Homo sapiens: one gene and its partners. The protein of the gene in region 1 interacts with the protein of each later gene in a pairwise test. Each region holds a gene or a part of one and is shown in the gene's direction. Other genes may lie near its edges.

What was found.
Region 2: the proteins of TTC23L (region 1) and EGLN3 interact in binary tests that used the Homo sapiens proteins (3 or more experiments, as listed by UniProt).
Region 3: the proteins of TTC23L (region 1) and DPF2 interact in binary tests that used the Homo sapiens proteins (3 or more experiments, as listed by UniProt).
Region 4: the proteins of TTC23L (region 1) and DNAAF11 interact in binary tests that used the Homo sapiens proteins (3 or more experiments, as listed by UniProt).

What each region holds. Positions count from the first base shown.
Region 1 is NC_000005.10:34,834,622-34,842,188, forward strand, and holds the start of TTC23L (tetratricopeptide repeat protein 23-like), read left to right. Parts: upstream 1-4,542; 5' UTR 4,543-4,638; exon of another isoform or gene 4,639-4,742; intron 4,743-4,759; exon of another isoform or gene 4,760-5,013; coding exon of another isoform or gene 5,014-5,033; intron 5,034-6,043; coding exon of another isoform or gene 6,044-6,050; coding exon 6,051-6,118; intron 6,119-7,536; exon of another isoform or gene 7,537-7,567.
Region 2 is NC_000014.9:33,941,071-33,948,105, reverse strand, and holds part of EGLN3 (prolyl hydroxylase EGLN3), read left to right. Parts: intron 1-7,035. UniProt on the Homo sapiens protein: Prolyl hydroxylase that mediates hydroxylation of proline residues in target proteins, such as PKM, TELO2, ATF4 and HIF1A. Target proteins are preferentially recognized via a LXXLAP motif.
Region 3 is NC_000011.10:65,350,844-65,354,789, forward strand, and holds the end of DPF2 (zinc finger protein ubi-d4), read left to right. Parts: intron 1-839; coding exon 840-916; 3' UTR 917-3,419; downstream 3,420-3,946. UniProt on the Homo sapiens protein: Plays an active role in transcriptional regulation by binding modified histones H3 and H4. Is a negative regulator of myeloid differentiation of hematopoietic progenitor cells. Might also have a role in the development and maturation of lymphoid cells.
Region 4 is NC_000008.11:132,630,531-132,637,565, reverse strand, and holds part of DNAAF11 (dynein axonemal assembly factor 11), read left to right. Parts: intron 1-4,602; coding exon 4,603-4,826; intron 4,827-7,035. UniProt on the Homo sapiens protein: Involved in dynein arm assembly, is important for expression and transporting outer dynein arm (ODA) proteins from the cytoplasm to the cilia. Acts as a crucial component in the formation and motility of spermatozoal flagella.

The sequences.
Region 1 (7,567 bases):
GGACTTATAGTTCCACGTGGCTAGTGAGGCCTCTCAGTCATGGTAGAAGGCAAGGAGGAGCAAGTCACGTCTTAAATGGATGGCAGCAGGCAAAGAGAGAGCTTGTGCAGGGAAACTCCCGTTTTTAAAACCATCAGATCTTGTAAGACTTATCCACTATCACAAGAACAGCATAGGAAAGACCCACCCTCATGATTCAATTATCTCCCACCACGTTCCCCCCACAACATGTGGGAATTCAAGATGAGATTTGGGTGGGGACACAGCCAAACCATATCAGTAAGGGATGGAAAGAAGCAGGACACAGTCAAATGATGCAAGCTGCTAACAGCCAGGAGAAGAGGGCTCCTTATGTGTCACCTCCATATGTTTTTAAAACCATGCATTTAAGTTACACACTCTAGTAGGCAGAATAAGTCCTCCCAAAGACATCCATGTCCTAATCCTCAGAACCTGTGAATATGTTAGCTGTGAATCTAACCTGTGAATAAGTTACATGACAAGGAGGAATTAAGGTTGCTGATAGAATTAAGCCTGCTAATCTGCTGACCTTTAAATAAGATTATCCAGGTGGGCCCAGTATAACAAGAGGGGTCTTTTAAAAATGGAAAGAAGGGTCAGAGATTTGAAGATGCTGCATTGCTGCTGGCTTTGAAGATGAAGAGAACAAATCAAGGAATGCAGCCAGGCTCTAGAGGCTGGAAAAGGTAAGAAAAAATTTTCTCCTTGAGCTCCCAGAAGGAGCCACCCTTGCAGACAGCTTGTCTTTAGCCCAGTGACACCCATTTCAGACTTTCAACCTCCAGAATTATACAATAATAAAGTTGTGGTTTGTTAAGCCACTGAGTTTGTGGTGACATTACAGCAACAATAGGAAACTGATACACACAGGGAGAATCTCTACTAATGGAGTTCCTAAAGGTCATTTGTAGTTTATGTGTTTTTTTTGTTTTGTTTTTCTTTTTTAACACTGATATATCCCAGGCACTGTGCTGAATGCTAAAGGCTCAATGATAACAACTCCTGCTCACGAGGAGCTCATAGCTGGCCAATCAGGGCCTGCTACCTAGCAGGTATTCTGTATTCACTGAGTGGGTAGATGAATATTTAGACGGATGAATTGCCTATAAGGCCCTCCATGACCTGATGCCCCACCACTTTACTGACACAGTCTTTTGTCTCTTTCCTCCTCATTCTTACTACCCTTGGCTGTTCTTTGACCCCATTAAACTTGTTCCTGCCTCAGGGCTTTTGCACTTGCTGTTAACATCTTAGAATGTTCTTCTCCTAAATATTTGCACAATTTGTTGCACGATTTGAGGTATCTTCTCAATGTCATCTTGTCAGAGAGGCCCTGTTTAACTACACTATGTAAGATGGCACACCCCTCCCGCCATGGCCACATCACCTTCTAAATCCCTTACCTGGTTTTATTTTTCTCCATAACTGTTTATCATGTTTTCTTTTTCTTTTTTCTTTTTTTTTTTTTTTAAGATGGATTCTTGCTCTTGTCACCCAGGCTGGAGTGCAATGGAACAATCTCGGCTCACTGCAACCTCTGCCTCCCACGTTCAAGCAATTCTCCTGCCTCAGCCTCCCAAGTAGCTGAGATTACAGGCACCCGCCACCACACCCAGCTAATTTTTTACTTTTAGTAGAGATGGGGTTTTGCCATGTTGGCCAGGCTGGTCTCGAAATCCTGATCTGGTGATCCACCCGCCTTGGCCTCCCAAAGTGCTGGGATTACAGGCGTGAGCCACTGTGCCCAGCCCACTTTTTCTTAAGGTGACTCTTCTGGCTAAGGGAGTCAGTGAGTCCTGAAATCCAGCCCACTCTCTGTTCCCAAAGCTGTACTCCTTAGCAGGGGTCTGAGTCTGGCTGGAGGAAAAGGCTTTTTCCAAATTCATACACTGTCACTGCATACTCCCTAAGCCTTCTGCCTTTTTGTAACTTGCAGAGACACCATACTGTTTACTAGCAGCTCTGTTTTTCTTCATCTAGTAGAATATAAATTCCTGGAAAGCAAAATCATTATCTTATTTGTTCACTTTTGCTTTCCTACTGCTTAGAACATTATCTGGCACATAGTAGGTATTCCACAAATATTTTTGTCTGGGTGGATGGATAGATGTATGGAGATTGGAGAAACTTGCAAATAAACAGAAGTGCCAGTACAATGTGAGAGTCATGATGAGATTGTGGACAGGGTACTGCGAGGGCTCAGAAGCAAGGCATCTAACCCTCTCTTGAGAGGCCATAAAAATGTGTTCCAAGCGAAAGTTTATTTGGATTTCCTTGCCTTAAATTTCACAGTTCCTGGGATAAGAATAGCTTGGAGATAATCACATTTGATTTGGGGTTGTTAGAGCCTAGAAAAACCCCCCATACTGCTTCCTCTATGCAATTTCTGCAATAGCAATGCTTGCCACCTCTACCTCCGGATCAGGGGAGGGAATGTGAATACACACGGTGGAAACGCACTATCCACTTAGATTAGTGGGATGCCATTCTAGAGTTAGTGAACAAACCTAAAAGTGTATATACTACAACTAAAGCTTACATTTGGGGGACAGGGTTAACATGACAAGGAAAGAAATACCAAAAAACTTCAAGAGTCCTCAAAGTTCTGGCTGGACGGTGGCTCACACCTGTAATCCCGGCACTTTGGGAGGCTGAGGCAGGCAGATCACCTGAGGTCAGGAGTTCGAGACTAGCCTGGCCAACACAGTGAAACCCTGTCTCTACTAAAAATACAAAAACTAGACAGACAGTAGTGGCACACATCTGTAATCCCAGCTACTCGGGAGGCTGAGGCAGCAGAATTGCTTGAACCCGGGAGGCGGAGGTTGCACTGAGCCAAGATCACACCACTGCACTCCAACCTGGGCCACAGAGTGAGACTCTGTCTCAAAAAAAGAAAAAAAATAGTCGCCAAAGTTATTTTATTTTGATTTATAATTTTTACAGATGCAGGCAACATGCTTCCGGTCAGAGCTAATGAAATGGAGGCCGAATTAGAGCGTTGGCTTTAGGAATGGGAATTCAGTGCCTGTTCTGGTTCTTCTCTCCACAATTATCAGCAAAAGCAAAGGTTTAGAAAAGAGACATTACCTTTAATATACTTAGAAACAATCTCACAGCCATTTCCTAGAATGAAAGAACATTAAAACCTTTCAATTTGATGACCAACTTAACAAGGGGTAAAAGAAATAAATGTTGGAGAACAGGAAACAGGTTCTTCCTTTTTACTCCCATACATGTTAAATACTGTTCATAGAGTCACAAAAATCGTTTACCCCTTACAGAAACCTGGAACCAGAAGGCGCTTCAGAAAGCAAGTGGTACAAAAACTTTCACCGTATAGGCAAGAAAATTGGGACCCACTGGCCGTGACTCGGCCCAGGCTACAGAGTCAAAACCAGAACCTTGACATTCTGAAATCAGGTTCATTGCTGTCATCATTGTTCCATGCTGAGAGTTTTCTTAGGAAAAAGAATAAAGTGGGGGAATCTTTCCAAAATTGTGACTATGGAGCTCGAAAGTACAGATTTAAATCTTGAGTTAACAGACCATACAGGTTTTACTTAAGAGATATTCAAGCAAACTCATTTAAATAACTCCTCCAACCTAACTCCAAAAAGGCTTTCTTGGCAGTCTTGGATCAATGGCAATTAAACTTCCAGCCTAGAGCTGGAAATAACAAACACCAAACGTAAACACCATCTTTCACATTCTCAATGTTCTCCTTGTCTCTCTACCTAGTCTGCTCTTTTCTGAAAACAACTGGGACACATTCACTCCAACTTGACTTGCCATAGGCCTAGTCTATGATAGGGTTCATAATAACATCCTTCAACATAGCGTTGCAAGAGCTGGCGCTGTTTCTTTGGGTATGGCCACAATTGCCTCTGCACCTTGTGTGTATTACACACACTGTATTCCATGCCAACGAAAGGGTAAGATATGGCTGCATTATTTAGGGCTAAGTGCTAAATAAATAATGAACAGCTAACCATTAGCAGATCTAGTAGTCGATTTCTTACCCTACTCTCTTCCTGCAATCAGCTTTCCTAACCATGCCTAGCTCCAATCTTACTGGGTAACACAGACGGTGCCAGCACAGTCAACAGCCATATCTAAGCCTTTCCTCTGGGGTCCATAAAAACAAAACTCCCGAGGAGCTGTGGGGGTGCACCGTGGCCAGGATCGTCGCCGAATACAGCCCGCACACGTCGCAGCTTTAAATAAGTAGGGCCGTGGGGCCCGGCGCTCCCTTCCATCCTTGGACGGAATGTATCTTCTCTTCCTACGCCTTCACCTCCGAGGGGTAAGGTCTCGTGAGATACAATATGCAGAGGCCAGTTTTGGGGCGAGCCGGAGGCCGGGCGCGTCTAACCTGCGGGGAAGGGAAAGCGGAGGGTAAGGCAAGGGCTGCTGTAGGCGCCAGACAACAGGGACTCTCCGAACCGGAAGTGCCCCGCGTCGCCATGGCTACAGGCGCTCCCAGCAGAACCCGTAGCGTTCCGTTCCCATGGCAACGGTATTGTCTCCTTGGCCGGACCTGGGCTGCGGAAGGTAACTGGGGACGTCGCAGGCTGTGCAGCTTTCGCGAGGCACCGCTTTGGCGCCCGGACCGAGGTGCGCCAGGGTCAGGAGGCCGACGCAGCGGGAGGAAGCCGCGCCGTCGGGCTCAGGGAGCTGGGAGGCTGGTTCCGGGGCGTGGTTTCTCCGCCTTGAGCCAGGTGCCCTTTGCGCACTCGCGCGTTCTCTTAGAGCCTCCGCGGCAGAGAGGCTCTCAGAGCTCGACCTGCGGCGTCAGGGCTTACAGACTTGCCGCAGAACCACAGCGGGAAAAGAGGAGCGATTCGTCCTTGAGGGGCTCAGGGCCGTGCGGAACGTCATAGGAACAGAGTCCGGGAGTTTGAGAGATCAGAACTCTTTGCTGTGGGCATAGTGTTTAAAGTGGAGGTTAAAAAGAGAAATTAGTGACTCTCCCTTTCTGATTTTCGGATAATGGATGCTCTGGAGCCTGGGTCAGAAAGCCACTCAGGGCTCGGTGGGAATTAGTGATTCTGGAGGGTGAAAGGAGAGGCGACTTGGTGGATGTTAACATTCAATAAGTAACTGCGTTCGATTTGGGTTTGATTTAAGCGACTGGCATAGCCTTCCTTGAGAGTTGAATTTCACAAATACTGTATTTAGAAATCACATTTTTCGTTTTGTGCTTCCGAGGTTTCTCCTATCATCTAACAGCAACAACTAAAACAGACACATGAATTTCATTTTATTGTTTTATTTTATTTTGAGACGGAGTCTCGCTCTGTCGCCCAGGCTGGAGTGCAGTGGCGCGATCTCCGCCTCCCGGGTTCAAGCGATTCTCCTGCCTCAGCCTCCCGAGTAGCTGGAACTACAGGCGTGCACCACCACAGCCGACTATATTTTGTATTTTTAGTAGAGACGGGGTTTCACCCTGTTGGCCAGGCTGGTCTCGAACTCCTGAACTCGGGTGATCCACCCGCCTCGGCTTCCCACAGTGCTGGGATTACAGGCGTGAGCCTCTGTACCCGCCTCGTGACCCCTGTACTAGAATCTGCTATTAATTAGTGAAATGACCCCGGGGGGGGGGGGGAAAGCAGAATTAACCAATACACTGGCTGTGCTTCGTTTACCACTGAGAGTTGGTTGCTTTGCTTAAATCCAACACGCCGTCAGACCTGCAAAAACAATATCTGAGTTAAGTAGGTGACCATAGTTTTGATGACCCAGGAACTGTAAATGTGCTTGCTTTGAGACATAAAGGCCAGGGATTTTGGAGAAGTAGGGTGGAGTTGAAATTAGGGGAAAGAAATTTAACTTAGACATTTAATTTGGCAAATGTCTGTTTTCCAGCGGTCTCCATATCTAAGTATGCGTAGTCTGTGGATTTAGGATGGGTTATATATTTGAGCAGTTTTAGTTTAATGTTAATAGCAAACCAGAGGGGGAAAATAGAACAGACACCCAGCCTTTTCTCTCAAAGCTGACCTTACCTGATTCTTGGTAGGAAGAAGATGCAAGCCAGCCCCATCCGTATCCCAACTGTTAGCAATGACATCGACTGGGATTTCTGCTTCCATATGTAAGTATCACAGCATTTTGACATCACAGGTACTTACTGGGCTGAAACACTGGGACCTCCTGCTTAAGGCAAACCTGGGTGAGGAGCTTTGCATGAGAAGCGTTCACGACCAGCCTGACCAACATGGTGAAACCCCGTCTCTACTAAAAATACAAAAATTAGCTGCGCGGTAGTGGCACGCGACTGTAATCCCAGCTACTCGGGAGGCTGAGGCAGGAGAATAGCTGAACCCGGAGGCAGAGGTTGTGGTGGGCTGAGATTCCATCACTGCACTCCAGTCTGGGCAATAGAGACCCTGTCTCAAAAAAAAATAAAATAAAATAAAAAAGAAGGTTGTGTTTCTGATGTGCTTTAATAATGATTCTGCTATAATATCTGTTTGTATTTACAACCTATGCATGATAGAAGATTGCTTTTTCCCGACTTAAGGAAATTTTAAAAGTTTTTAAAATAAAAATAGGTTAGTTATAACAAGATTGGCAAAATTGTAGAGAGTTAGCTATAACAAAGTTAATGAGAAAATTTTTATGAAATAGAGTAAATAAAACTTTCGTATCGTCTAATACTTATTGAGCACATACTATGTGCCAGGCTCTGTTCTAAGTACCTTAAACGTCTTAGCTGATTTAATCCCCCCAAGCCCTGTGAAGGAGTTACTGTTATTGGTACATTTTATAGATGAGTATGAATCAAAGAGATGTTAGGGAGTTTGCCCAAAGTTGCAAAGCTAGTAAATGGTATTTAAACTGGGCATTCTGACTCTAGAATCCATTCTTGTTTTGTTTTGTTTCGTTTTTAGAGACAGCCTTGCTCTGTCACCCAGGCTGGAGTGCAGTGGTGCAATCACGGCTCACTGCAGCCTTGGCCTCTTAGGCTCAAGAGATCCTCCCACCTCAGCCTCCTGAGTAGCTGGGACTACAGGCACACACCACCATACCTGCCTAATTTTTACATTTTTGTAGAGATGCGTTCTCATTATGTTACCTAGGCTGGTCTGGAACTCCTGGGCTCAAGTGATCCTCCTGCCTCAGCCTCTCAAAGTGCTGGGATTACAGGCATGAGCCACTGTGCCCAGGTAGAGTCCATTCTTTAACCATTCTCTATAGCAGGGTTTCTCGGTCTCTGCACTGTTGACATTGGGGTTGGATAACTGTTTGTTGTGGAGGGCTGTCCTATATGTTGTAGGATTTTTAGCAGCATCCCTGGCCACCATCCACTAGATGCCAGTAGCACTAGCTCCAGTTGTGACAAGCAAAAATGTCTCTAGATGCTGCCAGATTTCCCCTCGGGGCAAAGTCATCCTTAGTTGGGAACCATTGCTCTATACCAGTGTCATCAAATAGAAATATAATGCAAACCACATATGTAATTTAAAATTTTCTGCTACCCATATTAAAAGGTGAAATGAAACACATGAATTTAATTTCAATACTATATTTTATTTCAATA
Region 2 (7,035 bases), on another chromosome or scaffold:
TTTACCGGTTCATCCTTCACCCGTGTTTTCAAGAAAAACTAAAGTTTTAAATTTATTTATTATTATTATTTTTTTGAGATGGAGTCTTGCTCTGTCGCCAGGCTGTAGCGGCTCACTGCAATCTCTGCCTCCTGGGTTCAAGTGATTCTCCTGCCTCAGCCTGCTGCATAGCTGGGACCACAGGCACGCCACCCTGCCCAGCTAATTTTTGTATTTTTAGTAGAGACGGGGTTTCACCATGTTGGCCGGGCTGGTCTCGATCTCTTGACCTCATGATCCACCCGCCTCGGCCTCCCAAAGTTCTGGGATTACAGGCTTGAGCCACTGTGCCCGGCCCTTAAATTTATTTTTAAGTTTTAATTAAGGAAATTTTCAAACATACATAAACATAAGAGGCTAATATAATGAGCTCCCATCACCCAATTTCAACAATTGCCAATATGTACATTTGTTTTAGACCAATTTTTTTTAGCTACTTTAAATTTCTTGAGGTTATGCTTATTCATGCACTTACCCAAATTTCATTTCTTTTTTTGTTCTTTGCTAGACTTGGAAAGATCATTGAATAATATTGCCCTTTATCTCAATGAAACAATAGCAAAGATATTGGGAGTAAAACAGAAAGATACACTGGACCTAAAATTGAAATTGTGGAAGAATATAGAAAGAAATATTAGATGGTTCTGCTTCCTGCCAAGAAAGTTGTTAATGGTCAGAATTTGTCTACCTCATCTTTGCTGGAGAAAAATCCAAGGGTGTTGAAGACCCCTTGGGAAGTGGTTCCTGTAATGTACAGCTGTATGGCCCCCCCTAACTTCAAGCATGATCATTGCTTTCAGGCTAGCAAAGGATTTATCCGCTCGCTACTCCCTTTTGGAGATTTTAGACCATATCCAAGATAAATATTGGTCATAATTTGCTCCTTTTTCTTTGGCTGCCTAGATCTTGAAAATGGCTGTTTTCCAGAGAATGTATAATTTTTAGAACCAAAAGTCCCTCTGCTTCAAACAGCTCACTGTAGACTCACTAGTTAGTGACTCTAATAAGAAGAACTACCTTTTATTGAGCAGTTTGTATTGTCTGGCACTGTGCTATGCACTTTACAAATACTATCTTGCTTAATCTTCAGAAACACAGTCTTAAACATATTGAGTGATTAAATACTGTGCCCAAAGTTTCAAAGTCAGTGGTAAGAAACAGTTTAAATGGGGGCTGGGAGCTCAGGCTCAGTGTTAACTAACTTCGTGGCTTTAGGCAAGTTGCTTGGTTTACACCAGGTGCAAAATGAAAGGAAATAATGCCGTAAAGCTGTTGGAGGAAGAAGCATTAAATAAGATGATGTTTATGAAATGTTTAGCAGAATTCCGAGCCTTCATCAGTGTTTTAAGTCTCCAGAGGGGAAATTTGGGATCCTAACCTAGATTTGTGTAACTCCAGAGACTGTGTTATTTCCTTTTATTCTCTCCTACTTCCGACCTTTCATTTATTCAGCAAATGTTATGGAGTGTTCAGCCTGTGTGGGATGCTGTGCAGGGGTGGTGGTGCCATGATGAACGAATTTATACTTTCGTATACTTTGAATTGTAGGATGGTCTCATTCACACTTGACTAATTCTTAGGCTTAAGAAAACCCTCAAACATTGAAGTGGGTCAGTTGAGTACATTTGAAGAAAAAAATAGAGTACTGTGCTGATGTTTTCCTACTGTTTTATTTATTTATTTATTTATTGAGACAGAGTTTTGCTCCTGTTGCGCAGGTTGGAGTTCAATGGCGCAATCTTGGCCCACCACAACCTCCGCCTCCTGGGTTCAAGCGATTCTCCTGCCTCAGCCTCCTGAGTAGCTGGGATTACAGGCGTGCGCCACCATGCCCGGCTAATTTTGTATTTTTAGTAGAGACGGGGTTTCTCCTTGTTGGTCAGGCTGATCTCTAACTCCCGACCTCAGGTGATTCGCCTGCCTTGGTGCCTCCCAAAGTGCTGGGATTACAGGTGTGAGCCACCGCGCCCGGCTTCTACTGTTATTTTTAGGAAAACATTTATTGATAGGGTTTGTTCGTAGGATTCCTGACCAGACTAGCTCTGGAAGGTGGCATTGTGAGGACTGCATTGTGAACAGACCAATTGGTCCTCCCCTGGAAACAATAAGGAGGAATGATGAAACAGCAAAACATTTATGAATTAAAGAAGATGTGTTGCAAGGTGGTGTGTTTATTCCTTGCTGTTGAGCAATAACAGTTTTGGCCCACCCTTCTCATGTGAGGTCAGGAATATACATTATTTAATGGAGCTTATCATGGTTGCAAACTACTTTAAGGGAAAAATGAAGCAATGTACTATGAAGTGATCTCGCAGGATCCAAGTGCAAGAAATGCAGTCAGGGTTCTCAGAAGCTTAGAGGTATGAACTAGGAAGCAGAAAGTCCTTAACATCCAGGACAGCTGGTGTGTTCTTTTCTCAGGAGCCTCATGACCTCCATCTTTGCTTCCCTGCTTTTGCTCTTCATTTCTTATCCTCTTTTCAATCCAGCTTTTGCTGCCTTCCCATGCACATGGCTCAAGATGGCTGCCCCACAATGGCCACCTCAGCCTTTAGTTGCAGATGAGCAGAGACTTCAGTAACATTCCTGGATCCCTGTTTTCATCGCCTGGGAGAAAGTCTGATTGTCTCACCTTGGCTCAAGGGATCTATCAGCCGTAGTCTGGCACAGTGGGAGGCATGTGGAAACCATGCATCACAAATATGGTTGCCAGGGCCCATGAGAGTTATAGCTCTTAGAGCACAGAGTTTGAGAGCTGGATACCATAAATGGTATCTCTGCAATTAGAATCTTAGAAATCTACCTGTGAATAAGGTATTTTGGGGAGGAGTGCTGCTGAGTTTGAAGCTCTGGAACACTGTGAATAAGGTATTTTGGGGAGAAGGAGTGCTGAGTTTGAAGCTCTGGATCATCTTTCTGTAAGGATGTAAGGGATTCCTATAAAAGCTTTTGTATTAAAAATAACTTAGCTCCTGTAGGAAGGAAATTACTCCACAGTAATAATTTACAGAATACAGTCCCAGTGACAGTGAAACAAGTCTCTCCAATGGGCAAGTTTTCATGGGGTTTTTTGTCTATTTTGTGAATGACATTTGGAAACAAAAAAGGCAGGAGGGTGTGTGTGTTTAATTTGTAATTTCTTTTGCTCAATTTTGGGCCACTGGCCACTTCACTATAACCTTATCTGCTTCAGAGAAGTGGATAATAAAGGGATATCGATTTAATTCATTCACAGATCACTCAGTGCTGCACACTGTGGGAGACCTGTCCGTGGATGGGGAAGGGAAGTGCCCAGTGATTACAAAACCACCTGAAGAACTAAGCTGAGAGTTGAGTGTAGTGTGCAGTGGTTGTCACCAATTCTTTCTCTTTTTCTGGTTAAAAAGTGCACGTTTACGCTCATTAGTCATTGTTTCTCTTTGGGTTTTCTCCAATTTCTCTGTTAATTTAAAATGAAGCAACCAGAACAAGTGATCAAAACTATACAGGATGTTAATAATATGGGTTTTTAGGGCTAGAGAGATATTAGAAGTCACATCTATCCAATGTCTCAGTCATTCAGCAGTTGTTTTCATATTTGGAGAGATGATATCTTGAGCAGATCCTTGGGAAGGGATGGATAAAAGGTACTTTAATAGAGAAAGGGTGGCTGGGTGCAGTGGCTCACACCTGTAATCCCAGCACTTTGGGAGGCCGAGGCGGGCAGATCACAAGGTCAGGAGTTTGAGACCAGCCTGGCCAACATGGTGAAACCCCATCTCTACTAAAAATACAAAGTCTAGCCGGGCATGGTGGTTTGCGCCTGTAGTCCCAGGTACTCAGGAGGCTGAGGCAGGAGAATTGCTTGAACCTGGGAGGTGGAGGTTGCAGTGAGCCGAGATTGCACCATTGCACTCCAGCCTGGGCAACAGACCAAGACTCCATCTCAAGAAAAATAATAATAATAATTAAAAAGAAAATAGAGAAGGGGCTACGCTGGCTGGGTCAGACAGACTGGGACCAGGGTCAGTAGGTTAATTCAGTGGCATCACCATTTTATTTGGGAATTTTAAATATAATTCTGACTGAAAATTGATAAACACCCTTAAGTGGAGTTATGCAAGCCTGTCTCTGCATAAGGTTTTGGAGTATCATGAATGATTTCCCTTTCTAACCTTTCTGCTTCAGCTCAAGCAAAATTGGTAAAATTTTTCCTGATTCCTGAATCTCCTGGAAAAACTTGTAATTTCATAAGTAACAAACAGCCCTCCATTTTATGACCCTATCCCAAGAACACACCATGTATGAAAGATTTCTCTGAGGAAGCTTAAAGGTCAGGGTGGCGTTCTACCCAACCTCTAATGAGCAGAGTTTAAGCACTGCCAGCATCTTGTGTACTTCCGGATAAAGCTTGGAAGGCTGCTCACCTGTGGGCCATGTTTGGTTTGGCAAGGCCTCTGCTTTTGACCCAACTTTGCAGCCCTAGGTAAATTAAATTACATTTTGATCTGTGCCCACTGAAGACCAAGAAGTAGCTTGCAGGTTAACATTATGGAGAAGGTTATTAACTTTTTGTTAATTATTACGGCAACAGACTCCACAATTCCTTGGTAGCAGCACTTTGTAGTTGTTAAGTGATATTGCTCTAAGAAACGGGTGTCGCTTTTCTCTAGTGTTTGTCAAATGCACATGTTCTGACAGTAATGATAGTTCAGATCTATTTTGCTGGGCATCTGCCAGGGGTGCCCAGTGGGTAGCTGAATCCAGAGGCACTGGAATTGTAAATACAACAGACAAATCATTTGATGGTGCCAGACTAAGGAGTTCAGCTTTGGCAGATTGCCAGGAGCCGTTGATTGGGCTCAGATTCAGTGCTATGTGTCTGTTTGCCAAGCAAGATTAGTTGTCTTGGTTAATTATACATAGAATTTGTACCCCCTTTCTCTCGATTATTTCCATCTTAAACCGGTATGACATTTACTTTAATTTTGCATCTTGTTTTGATATTGATTTGTGGGTGAGTTTCTGTCCCTGTTTTTGGTGAGTCTGTAGTGACTACGTTTTCCTGCCCCGGTCCTAACACAATCCCAGCCTTACAGACCCTGGGTTTGCTGGTGTATAATGCAGGCTTTCACATCTTGTATTGGATTCATTTGGTACCTTGTTACTTAGTGTTCTCCGTGTTCAGTACAGTGTCAATACCTCCTTATTAAATCAAGCTAATTTTTGATTCTTTAGAAGGTACAATGATTCTCAAGTTCTGGAGTACATGTGCCTATCTTATATTAAACATTAGTTTTTCTTTACAAAATGAGGCCAAAATACTTATTGTTGCCATACAAAAATAATTCCAGAATACAAAGAATCAAATAATATGATAGTAACCTCAATTCTTTGTCAGTGGGAAGAAAACAAAATGAAAAACTCAATTCCAGGTGTCAATAACATCTATTTTTTATTCTAATGTGAGACCCTGAAGTTCCATCTTTTTGAAGTTGTCAGGATAATTTCATTTGAGCATTGCTTGGAAGCTGTAAGGATATACTGTTTGGGACCCTTTTATTTATTTTTATAGAGATGGGGTTCTGCCATGTTGCCCAGGCCTCCCAAAGTACTGAAACTACAGGTGTGAGCCACCAGGCCAGGCCAACAAAACCCCTTTTAAACACAAAATATTGAAGATTCAGGCAAGAACATGCAGTATTGCTAGAGAAGGGCCTATTGTGCTTTCTTTGTTTAGTTTTACTTTTTAGGTTCACTATAGAACCTCAAGTTGTCTTTTTTTTTTTTTTAACTAAACTTTCTTTCCTTTCTTAGTAGAAAAATCCTTGAGGGGCCCTTTCTTAGTAGAAAAATCCTTGAGGGGGGAAGTTTTTTAAAGTAACTTACTGTAACCATAAATCACTTGCCGTTGGTTCTTGTTCTTCCTGTAATCCATTTTATGTACTTTTGCTAGAGTGTAGTAGTCCCAATTCCAATTCTAATCATGTAGTCTCTGTGCTTAAAACAAAATAATCCAAAAATCCAACCATGCTCCTTCTTCATTATCTACTATACAACACTGTAAAGACTGTAAACTTAGCCAGCTTTGACAGCCCTCTACATCTGACCACATCTGACCTTTCTACACTTAATTTCCCACCACTGCCTTCCTTTCCTCCCAGTCCCTGAAATGCTAGAAACTAATTTGCCAGGCATAATGAGCTTCCCCATTGTCTTCCACTCATCAAAAATCCATCTCTACCGCCTTCTAGTGCCTGTTCCCTGAAGTCTTCCCTTCTGCTCCCCAGAACTCTGTCGTGGCTCAATCCAGGCTGCCCAGTACATGGATTTATTGGGCTGTTTATGCTGTCCACCGTGTGCTTAGAAATTCCTTGAATGCAGAGACTGTTAAGCTTTGTATATACTTTTAGTGCCTAGAACAGTCCCTTATACTTCATAGGTGCTTGTTGGCTTAATTTCATCTTCAAAAGGAACTTTGATTTTGATGGATATTTGAATGTTAAAAAAAAAGCTAGAATTTTTTTTGGGGGGGATAGAGGGGAATGACGGGGGAAGATGGGTGGCTGCAGCTTAGTCTCTAATTCGATGCCTAAGTATTTAAATATTTTATTAGAGTGACATGTTATGTGAGACCATCTCAATGGAGGACCTTAGCTTTGTAAGTTTTTTTTTTTTCTCAGTTTCGAAATCCTAGGTTTCACCCTAGAAATACCCGAGTCACACCTGGATCCTGGCAGCTCATACCTACAGGTCTGGCTCAGAGACGCCAGGGCCACGAGGCTTAGGGCCCCAGGTTCTGGTCCTAGCTCAGCCCCTGGCAAGTTTCATGGTCCTCCATTTCCACTTCTTTATGGATGAGTTAGATACTTGTTTTCATTTTTGAACTTAAATTTGGTCAGCACCTACCACTTGACACTAGGATGGACACTTCAGATTTTATTTCATCTTCCTATGATCTTGGGCAAGTCAGTTCTCTGAGCCCACTTTCATCATCTATAACATAGGCACAATAAT
Region 3 (3,946 bases), on another chromosome or scaffold:
TGCTGTGCGCTTGTAATCTCAGCTACTATAGAGGCTGAGGCAAGAGAATTGCTTGAATCTGGGAGGCAGAGGTTAGAGTAAGCTGAGATCACACTGCTGTACTCCAGCCTGAGCAACAGAGCGGAAACTCTTGTCTCAGAAAAAAAAAAAATAAAGGGAGTTAAAAAAAAAATGCATGAGACTGTATGTGGCTCACACACCCTAAAATATTTAACACTCTGGCTCTTTACAGAAAACTTTGCCAACCGTATTGACCTTTGGGTTAGAAAGGACTTACATTTTTGAGTCACCTGTTTCTGAAGAGCTGATAAAAGCCCTAGAATAATGTCCAAATGCGCATAGGTATAATTTTGCTTATCATTTCAAGGCATTAAGGACTAATTTTATTCAAAAAAAATTAGAAGAATTCAGCCATAGTCAATATTAATAAACAAGGAATGACCCAATTGTTTTTCATATAAGGGACAATTATTTTGTGTTTTTTAGTGAAACTACACAAGTCTTAAAACTGAGGTGCTTGACAAACTTCTGTCTTCCCAGGCCCTCTTCCTACTCCCAAAACTTCTGATTTAATAGGGCCAAGAGGGCCTGGGCATCAGTATTCTGAAGTCCTCTAGATGATTATTTCTTTCATCTCCATAGAGGATGATATTTCATAATATTTGAAGACTTAGAGGTTTATCCCAGCTCAGGAAACCATGGAACTTTCCTGCTGCAGAGCATCCCTCGTCCTACCTGTAGCTGATCCTGCTATAGAGATGGGGTATCAAGAGCAGAGGAATTGCAAGCAGGTGGGGATTGTGTGGGACCCATCCTGACCCCATTTTGCCTCTCTGCAGGAAGTTGGAGCTGCCACCTGTGTCTGGACCTGTTGAAAGAGAAAGCTTCCATCTACCAGAACCAGAACTCCTCTTGATGTGGCCACCCACCTGCTCCCCGACATATCTAAGGCTGTTTCTCTCCTCCACTTCATATTTCATACCCATCTTTCCCTTCTTCCTCCTCTCCTTCACAAATCCAGAGAACCTTGGGGTGGTTGTGCCAGCCTGCCTTTGGCAGCTGCAAGCTGAGGTGGCAGCTCTGACCACCTCTGGCCCCAGGCCCTCAGGGAGAAAGGAGCAACACACTGCCCCTAGGCGTGCGTGTGGCCCAGTTTCTCTCTGCTCTCCATTAAGTGCATTCACTCTGCTTGCCTTGGGCCCAGCCCCTGGTGATCACAGGGTTCAAACAGTGTCCTCCTAGAAAGAGTGGGAGAGCAGCTCACTTCTCTGTGTTCTGCCTCCCCTCTGGTCTCCAGAGTTTTCCTGTCCTCTAGAGGCAAGCCAGGCCAGGGAGCTGGGAGCGAGCAAGCTGAGGCCACGTCCACAAGGAGCTTTTCATGCCCCTGTGCCGCATAGCCTCACCTCTTTCCTCCAGAGTGGCTCTCTGCGGCCCTGTGTTCCTGCTACAGAGTGTTCTTTTCTGGAGTCAGGATGTTCTCGGTCACCCTCCTGGTTCTGCCCTGTCCCATTCCACCCCACCCCAGGGGGAACAGTAGCTTCACCTTGTTATTCCCATTGCTCTCCTGGCTCACTCTTACGGTCGGTCTCCAGTGACTGAAGCATTCCCCACCCTTGGAATTTCTCATCTTCTGCCTCCCTTCCTACTCCTTTTGGTTTTGTGGGGAGAGGGGAAGGATCAGGGGGCCAGGCCAGCAGCTCGGGGGCCACAAGGAGATGGATAATGTGCCTGTTTTTTAACACAACAAAAAAGCCTACCTCCAAAATCCCCTTTTTGTTCTTCCTGGACCTGGGCATTCAGCCTCCTGCTCTTAACTGAATTGGGAGCCTCTGCCACCTGCCCCGTGTATCCTGGCTCTCAGCTCATGGGGAAGCCACATAGACATCCCTTTCTTCCCTTGCACGCTCGCTAGCAGCTGGTAAGGTCTTCACACCCTGATTCCTCAAGTTTTCTGCTTAGTGGCACTGACATTAAGTAGTGGGGGGACAGTCCATGCCAGGACACCCTGGAGTAGCCTTCCCCCTTGGCCGTGGGCAGGCCCTAACTCACTGTCGCTTTGGAGTTGAGGTGTCTTTTTTTTTTCTTTCTTTAGTTCCTGTATTCTAAACATTAGTAAAAATAAATGTTTTTACACAGAGCCCTCTGCTGGATGGTTTATCTCCTGCCTTTCTCCATTAAGAAGGCCATTTCATCCTAAGATTTCCATGATGGTGGTTTTTTTTTTTAATGTTTTGAAATACAGCTTTTTTCCCCCCAAATTAAAATTTTTTTGTGGAACCCCAATATGTAAAGCGAATATAAAATTGGTTATTTTGTTTTGTTACATAAATTCAAGTTTATAACAATTCTTTGTTATAAAGAACAATGAAGCTGTTTTGATCAATACAAAATTTGGGTTAAAATCAACTTTAACATCTATTTTTATGTTTCAGTTGATTTGGAGAATTCTCCTAGTCTTGGATACATAGATGGAAGTGATGACAGGTTTATAACAGTTGACCTTGCAATCTCAGACATTTAAAACAGGACCAGAAGTTTATATAAATATAATTAATAAGCAAACTAATGACATCACCATGGGACACACACAAAAGTTCTTGCAGGAGCAGGGTCTGTGTGGCTTCAGTTGCCTGCAGCGCTCCCAGGCCAGAGCAAGTGCTCTAGGATCTGAACTGCCCGCAGTGCAGCCCTGCAGCCTTTCCCAGGGCACGTTGATGTGCACACAGTTTCCCTGAAGGCAAAGTGAACATGTGGAGAGCTTACGTGGCAGCGCGTATGTCTTCAGTGTGTGTTTTAGAAGTCCAACTGTTGTTTTTATGTTTTTAAAGGAAAGATTTGAATCAAGCAGTTATGGGCCCCCTGAAGTATCCTTTTTTCTAGAACATTCTGAAAGTCATCCTTGCCTATGGGAAGCCTAGGCCGGCCTGCACTGTTATGTTCAATAAATAAGCAGGGTGCTCTGGGCTGGGGATTGTGTGAGGAGCAGAGCGCAGCCCGTCCTCATGCTTTTCCACTGAAGTAGGCCAGGCAGAGAGGGAGTACAGCAATGGATGCGCTTTGGCAGCTGAGTAGTCCGAGAGCCAGAAAAGAAATGTGGAAAATAAGAACGCTGTAGCAGGCCTAGGTGAGGAAATTTAGGAAGGGTTTGCGGGAGGTAGGATTTGAGATGGGTCTTGGAGAGTTGGACAGTGTCAGCCGGTAGGACGGGGGTGCGGACGGAAGCCTGTGAGGAAGGCAGAGGATGCGGAGCTGTGAGCGGAGGGAGCAGCGAGGCTGGAGAGCAGCTGGGCTGCGGGTCAAGACGTCTGCGTTTAATTCGGGACTGAAGGTTAGCAGGGAAGGGAACGATGCCAGATCTTGAGTTTAAGAACTTGAATCTTGTAAAGTACCAAATCTAATAAAATACTCGTCCTAAATCATTACTGGCCCAAGCATGCAGTGTTTCCGTGGCCGACAGACTCGAGCCAGCGCTGTCCATGGTAACCAGCTTTTGTGTGGCTTAAAGCTTGCATCCATTTTCTCCTTTCATCGTTTTCCCAAAACAATTCCGTGAGGGCTGTTAGCCCTGCTTGGTAGACGAAGAAGCCGATGCGGTCTAGGGTCACGGCCAGGGAGGCTTTGGGACGCCAAGTCAGCTCGGCGGTCACCACACCACCTACAGGGCTCGTCGGGCCCTCGGGGTCGGCGGCTGCTGGAGGCGCCCAGGGGAGTCCTGCTGGTTCCTGGCTCCGCCTCCCGCCCCTCCGCGCTAGAAGCCCCGCCCCCAGAGGGGCTCGACGAACCGCCACTTCCGCAACGTCCAATGAAACTTAGCCGGGGGAGGGACGGGGCGCCACTGAGGACCAATCTGCTTGGGCCGGGGCGGGGCTGCGGCGGGTGGGTGCAGAGGGGCCGCACCGCGGACTTCGCAGCCGGGAGAGAGCCCGGCGCGGGCGGCGCGCACGGG
Region 4 (7,035 bases), on another chromosome or scaffold:
TGGCACGATCTCGGCTCACTGCAAACTCTGCCTACCAGGTTCAAGTGATTGTCCTGCCTCAGCTTCCCAAGTAGCTGGGATTACAGGCATGTGCCACCATGTCTGCCTACTTTTGTATTTTTAGTAGAGATGTGGTTTCACCATGTTGGCCAGGCTGGTCTTGAACTCCTGACCTCAGGTGATCCACCTGCCTCGGCCTCCCAAAGTGCTGGGATTACAGGCATGAGCCACCGTGCCCGGCAGGTTCACAGTCTTTGGTGTGCATCAGAGCACGTGGAGGCCTTTTCAAAACACAGACTGCTGTGCTCCTCCCCCAGGGTTTCTGGGTCAGGTCTGACATGGGGCCTGAGATTTCACATTTCTAACAAAATCTGGTAATTCTGCTGCTGGTGCAGGAACCTCATTTGACAACCACTACTGCGTATGTTACTCTTATACCATATCCCCCCAATCGAGTAATTTTAGAACTGAGGAAAAAATATTATTTCTTGAGAAATCATACAACAGAGAATATTAAGATAGCAATGTTACGTTTCATGTAATTCTAAGAGTTCCCAGCCTGCATGTGGCTCCATGTTCCTGGAAAGAGAATGCATGGATACATCGCCTGTTCAATAGGCATTTTTTCAGTTCTCAAAGGACGTTTGTTTCTTAGACTTCTGTGTTCTCTGCAGTCAAGAGACTGCTGACTGCTGGATTAATGGAACACATTTCTTCTAATGTAAAATTTCTCAGATTAAGAGAATGAGTGATTCAAGTAATTGAATATAGAATAAATGATAAATTGTCTCATACATAACCTAAACTGATCATTATTATACAGTGATTTCCTAGAAAATGAACTGATGAGACCCAGACTATCATAGGACTAGATCTTGTAGTGTAATGCTGTGAGCCGTTCCCTTGGAAGGGCTAAGGGTCCAGGAGTCCTCATGGCCACCGCAGCTGAGCCTGTGTCAGTGCTGCAGCTGAGCCTGGTCAGGCTAGAGGTGTGAGAGCCATCATATGGCTGCTGCAGACAGGGTCAGAGGTTGTGCCAGGTACTTTGGGCACAGTGTTTTTGATCCTCCCAGACCCATTCAGGGAGACAATTAGGTACATTCAGAGATGAGGAAGTCAGGGCTCAGGGAATGAACACTGCTTGTTTAGGCTGACATATCTGGCAAGTGACACAGGTGGGATCTGAACCTATGTGAGTCGGACCTTGATGCCTCCACCATTCACACTATACCCACATTCACTGCTTCTCTCCGGGTTAAATTATAGGCTTTGGATCAAGTCTTTCCTTTCAGAAAGACTTCTCCAAATTAACTGCTTCAATAGAAAACAGCCCCTTTTTGAAAAATGGTATTCATATGTTTACTACTATGTAAAAATAGGTTGATATGCTTTAGAGTCTTAATTACCATTTCATTGAAAGCTTGTGAGCTGCTTAAAAGGAATTGTGTTAATAAATGTATTATTTTCCTAGGGCTGCTGTAACAAAGTACTGCAAACTAGATGGCTTAGACAACAGAAATGTATCATCTTGTAGTTCTGAAGGCCAGACGTTCAAGTTCAAGATGTTGACGGGACTGGTTCCTTCCAGGGGCTGCGAGGGAGAATCTGCTTCATGCCCTCCCTCCTAGCTTCTGCTGATTTGCTGGCCAATCTTTGGCATTCTTGAGCTTGTAGACACATTACCCTGAGGGTCTCTGCCTTCCTCTTCACAAGACTCTTTATAAAGACACCAGTCATATTGGCTTGGGGCCCACCTGCTCCAGGATAATTTAGTCTCAGTGAATTATATCCATAGTGACCCTGTTTCCAGAAAGTCCCTGATTTGAGCTACTGGGGGTTAGGACTTCAACATCTTTTTTTGTCAGGGGACATCTATAATAACCCTATTTCCCAAAAGTCCATGATTTGAGCTACTGGGGATTAGGACTTCAACATCTTTTTTTGTCAATTCAACCCAAAACAACAGAGTAGTTATTTTAGATAGTCACATAGAAGAGGTGTGAGGAGAGTCAGCCCTTTTCAAGGTTTTTCTTCCCAGTGTCTGAGCCACTCCAGAAGTAGGTGGGCCCTGCAGTATAGTGGGAAACAGATTTGTTAGCAGACAAACCAAGGTCTGACCCCTGCTTCCACTGCCTGTGAATTGTGTGCCTCATTTTACTCATGTATAGTAGGATCATAATTCCTACTTCAAGGGAGTTCTGTGAGGCCTTCAGTACATCTTAGTGTCCCTCTCTCTGCTTCAGCACTTGCACAGTTATTATCAATAAGTGTGGACACTCCACCTTTGTGCTGCAGGAATCCTGGGTGAAGAAAGATCAAGAAACGCTCAGCTTAAAACTGGATCTCTGATTCTTAGGCCTTCTAAACTCAGACATGATTTTGGATTGAAGGAAATGTGGGCCAATTTCAAAGACTAACAGAAATCACTAAAAAAGTGAGGTTCCTAGAATAGGTGCTGGGGTACAGTCCCAAATTTGTCATCAGTTATTAATATGAGGTCTTTTGCCTCCTGTCAGTAAAGTGACAGAGGGTTCAGTTGTCATAGCCTTTTAGGAATGTAGTTCTAATTAAATCAAAATAGACTTACATCATTTATAAGACAGAAATCAATCAATCAATCAATCAATTAATGTACTTCAATTACAAGGAAGAAAAGATCACCTTGCTCCCCAGGGTTCTGTTGGGAAGAAATCCTAGTTGAAAGAAATTATCTAGAGTTTTCTAGCTTGTTATAATATACAGTTATATATAATGTATTTATGTTAATATATATTTATATATAAATTATACTATATAAATTAATATAACAAAGTGCCACAAACTGGATGACTTAACAGAAATTTATGAAAGTGCTTTATTTATATAGTATTAGTTATATATAAATATATTTACTTTTATGTTGATTCATATATTTATATCAGTGTATTTACTTATATATACTTACAAAATAAGTAAATTTCATTTATCCAAAAATTTCCAAATTGATTTGATCCCAATCCTGTATTAAATTAGATCAAATTAAGTATGTGGACCACAATTACTTAATGCCTTAAATAATAGGTTTTATTGCATTGAATTTATCATTATGGTCTCATAAGTAATGGTATGAAGATACCTTTATTGAAGGATACTACAAGAAACAGCCTTATGAAACCTGTGACTGTATGGCCATATTTCTACAGAAACAATGCTTGACATCTCTCAATATCTCCATTATGAAACTCTGTGCTAGAAATGTGTTTTAGAGCTGCATGTTAGAGGAAAGCTACAAACTTTATTTTTTCCTTAAAGACCATGAAAATTGTGTAACTAGTTATGTTTTTCTATTTCGCTTTGGCTGCCAAGAAGCTCAGAACCAAATCTGCAGCCCATCTATAGCAACCATATGAGTCCTTATGACCAGAGCATATGTGGCATTATCTTTTTTCCAAATCTCTACATAATTTTGACTTATAATTCAGCTGATTCTAATAATTTTTTAATTTATATTTGACTAAATCTTTGTGTGTATTTTTTTTTCCTTTTTTATGTTTCTTATTGCTGCTGTAACAAATTGAGACAAACTTAGTGACTTAAAACAATGCAAATGTATCACCTTATGATTCTGGAGATCAAAAGCCTGAAATGGTTTCACTGGGCTAAAATGAAGGTGTTGGCAGGGTTATTCTTTCTTCAGGCTCTAGGAGAGAATCCCTTACTTTGCCCCTTTCAGCTTCTAGAGGATACCTGCATTTTTAGGCTCATGGCCTCTTCCTCCATCTCCAAAGACATCAGTGTGCCAACTTTACCTCTCTCCCTAACTCTGACACTCATGTCTTTCTCTTTTACTTATAAGGACCTCTGTGGTCCTTATAAGAATCATCCTGATCATTCAAGATCCTTAACCTAATCACACCTGTAAAGCCCCTTTTGCCATGTAAGGTAACATTCATGGAGATTAGAACATGGACATTCTTGGGGAACCATTATCTTCCAACCACCCCTTCCTAAATACCTCACCTCATTTTGCAGAATAAGGCAGGGTAGATAAATAGGTATCTTTAAACTGTTAGCTTTAACATTTTAGAACTTTAGTTGATGCTTTTATTTTAATATTTTACTTTGGAAAATCATAATTGAAGTATCAGATGTAAACAATGCTGTAACAATAGCCTATCTGTTTGTCTTGTTGTTAAGGGTGAAACATGGGCTCATTTGTATTAGAGCCCAATCATGTGTAATATTCAAGGCCTTTTTTTTCTGTAGAGAGCTTTTGGGAAGTGCCATTGTTGTACTTTGAAGCTATGATTTGACTTAAGCATTGACATTTTTGACATAGTGAGCAATTATAAAATTAATAGAAAATATTTTGAGAGCTTGTATTAATTATCAGTTTTAACAGACCTAATTATTATTATTACTAGTAAAGGTATTTTTTAAACTGTGTAAATTATATGAAATATACATTAATTTAGAACAATGTTCTGATATTTCCCATTAATTATATTGTTTTAATTCTCTATCACTATCGGGTATATTATTATTTCTAATCAAAATCAACCTGGGGCTGATTCACACTGCTACTTTTGAACAATTGTACTATATTTATTGTTTTTCTTTAAGTGGTTGGATGGTAAAGAAATAGAGCCTTCAGAAAGGATTAAGGCATTGCAGGACTATTCAGTAATTGAACCACAAATCAGAGAGCAGGAAAAAGATCACTGTCTTAAACGAGCCAAACTCAAGGAAGAGGCTCAGAGGAAACACCAAGAAGAGGATAAAAATGAAGACAAGAGAAGTAACGCAGGCTTTGATGGACGTTGGTACACAGACATCAATGCTACTCTGTATGTAAATTATTAGTTTACTTTCTAGTTAACTTTTGTTAAAAGCAGCAAACTGTATTCTCTTTCCAAGTTGTTTGCAGTACACTTATATTCCAGATTAATTTGAAGAATGAAATATGATGTGAATTTTGGATGGAAGAATATGAGCATCCCATTGCTTGTGACAATTCTGTAAGGCTTTCTTTCCTTGGGGGAAAAATTCCTTTTTAAACTAGCAACTTTAATTTGCATCTAAAATTATTCTCAGAGAAATCCGTAAAATGTGTACAGAAAAGATGAATTAACAGGTGTACTTTGATTTACGAACTAGGAATATTTTAGAAAAGTTAAATACAAATCACATTATAATTTGAATAATTCTAATTGCATCATAAAACATTCTATTTTCTGAATTGGAATAGATTTCAGAAAAATACTGAATACATTTTTAATGTGATTAATAACTCTCTAATTGGTTTTTTAAAAATTAAATTTTTCATGTTTGTTTATTTTAAGTGAATTGCAACTATAGTCAGTTGATTTGATTCCATACAGTGAAAGTATTAAGTATTTAGATAACAGAATCCCTTAAAATTGAGAAAATAATAATTATAAAATATTGCAGACATACATAAATGTTTGAAAATAGTTATATAGGCAGCTTGTAGTTCTACCACCTAGATTTAATAAATGACAATAGTTTGTATGTTTGCTTTGGATCTTTTTTTTTTTTACTTTTTTTTAAATTATACTTTAAGTTTTAGAGTACATGTGCACAACGTGCAGGTTTGTTACATATGTATACATGTGCCATGTTGGTGTGCTGCACCCATTAATTCTTCATTTAACATTAGGTATATCTCCTAATGCTATCCCTCCCCACTCCCCCAACCCCACAACAGGCCCCGGTGTGTGATGTTCCCCTTCCTGTGTCCATGTGTTCTCATTGTTCAATTCCCACCTATGAGTGAGAACATGCGGTGTTTGGTTTTTTGTCCTTGCAATAGTTTGCTGAGAATGATGGATCTTTTTTTAAATAAGAAATAAAATATCATTAAGAGAGCAGACACTCCTTAAAGACTTCCCCTTCATCCCATGCCTCTCTTCATCCCAGTGGCGTCTGCTATCCTGAAGCTGGTGCGTGTTTGATATATGTTGATCCCATCCATATTTTTAATACCCTTATTTCACAAGTATGCCTCCTTAAACAATAGTAGTTTGAGTATGTGTGTTTAGCATGAATGATACCTTTCTATAGCTTTGCTTTTCATGCAACATTATGTTTTTGAGATTTACGCACATGAAGACATGCAAAACTAATTCATTGTAAGTATAGAATAATATCCTGTTGGATGAATAAATTACAATTTATCCCAGAGGTAATATTCAAAGTAGTTAATGACCAGTGTTTCATTTGCCCTGACCCATCAGAATGTGCAGCGGCTCTAACAACACATGTGGTCTTCCTAGTGGTGCCAGCTGGTCAGCCTGGACACAGCCATCCCTCTTTGGATGGCCATGCACGTTGTTTTCCCTATTCCCATTTCCTATTCTCACAGGAATAGAATCTCCTGAAAGTAGCATCATGGTCTCTCTTTGCCAGGGCTGTATCTCTGGTGCCTGGCACAACAGAAGATGCCCAATAAATATTTATTGAATCCATGTTGAACATTTGTTGAGATATTCAAGCAATGTTGCCCTTGTCTCCTTGTTCAGGTATGAAAGTTTCTCCAGGGTATTTAGCAATGGCATTGCTACAATTATGACATCTTTTCAACTTTTTACATATTGCCAAATTGTTTTCTAGAGTAGTTGTGATAATTTATACTCATATATCAACAATATACAAGAGTTTTCAGTCTTTGCCAATACTGGATAATATGATATTTAAAAATATTGGCCAATCAAGTGTGTTGTGTAGTATATAGTATCCTCTATTTTTAAAAAAATTAATTTGCATTTCTGTAGTTACTAGTGAATTTGAATATTTTAAATATCTTTTATATGTTTATTGGTTATTCAGGTATCCTCTATTCAAGTCCCCTACTTATTTTAAATAAGTAGTTAAGTTTTTTTCTTATTGAGAGTTCTTTTAGATTCTGGATACAAATAAAAAAATACATTCTTTGGTGGTTATGTGCTTTACAAGTGTCTTCTACCAGTCTGTGACTTGTCTTTAATTATAAGTGCTTATGTTTTATGAAGTTTAAAAATATTAATGTAGTTAAAC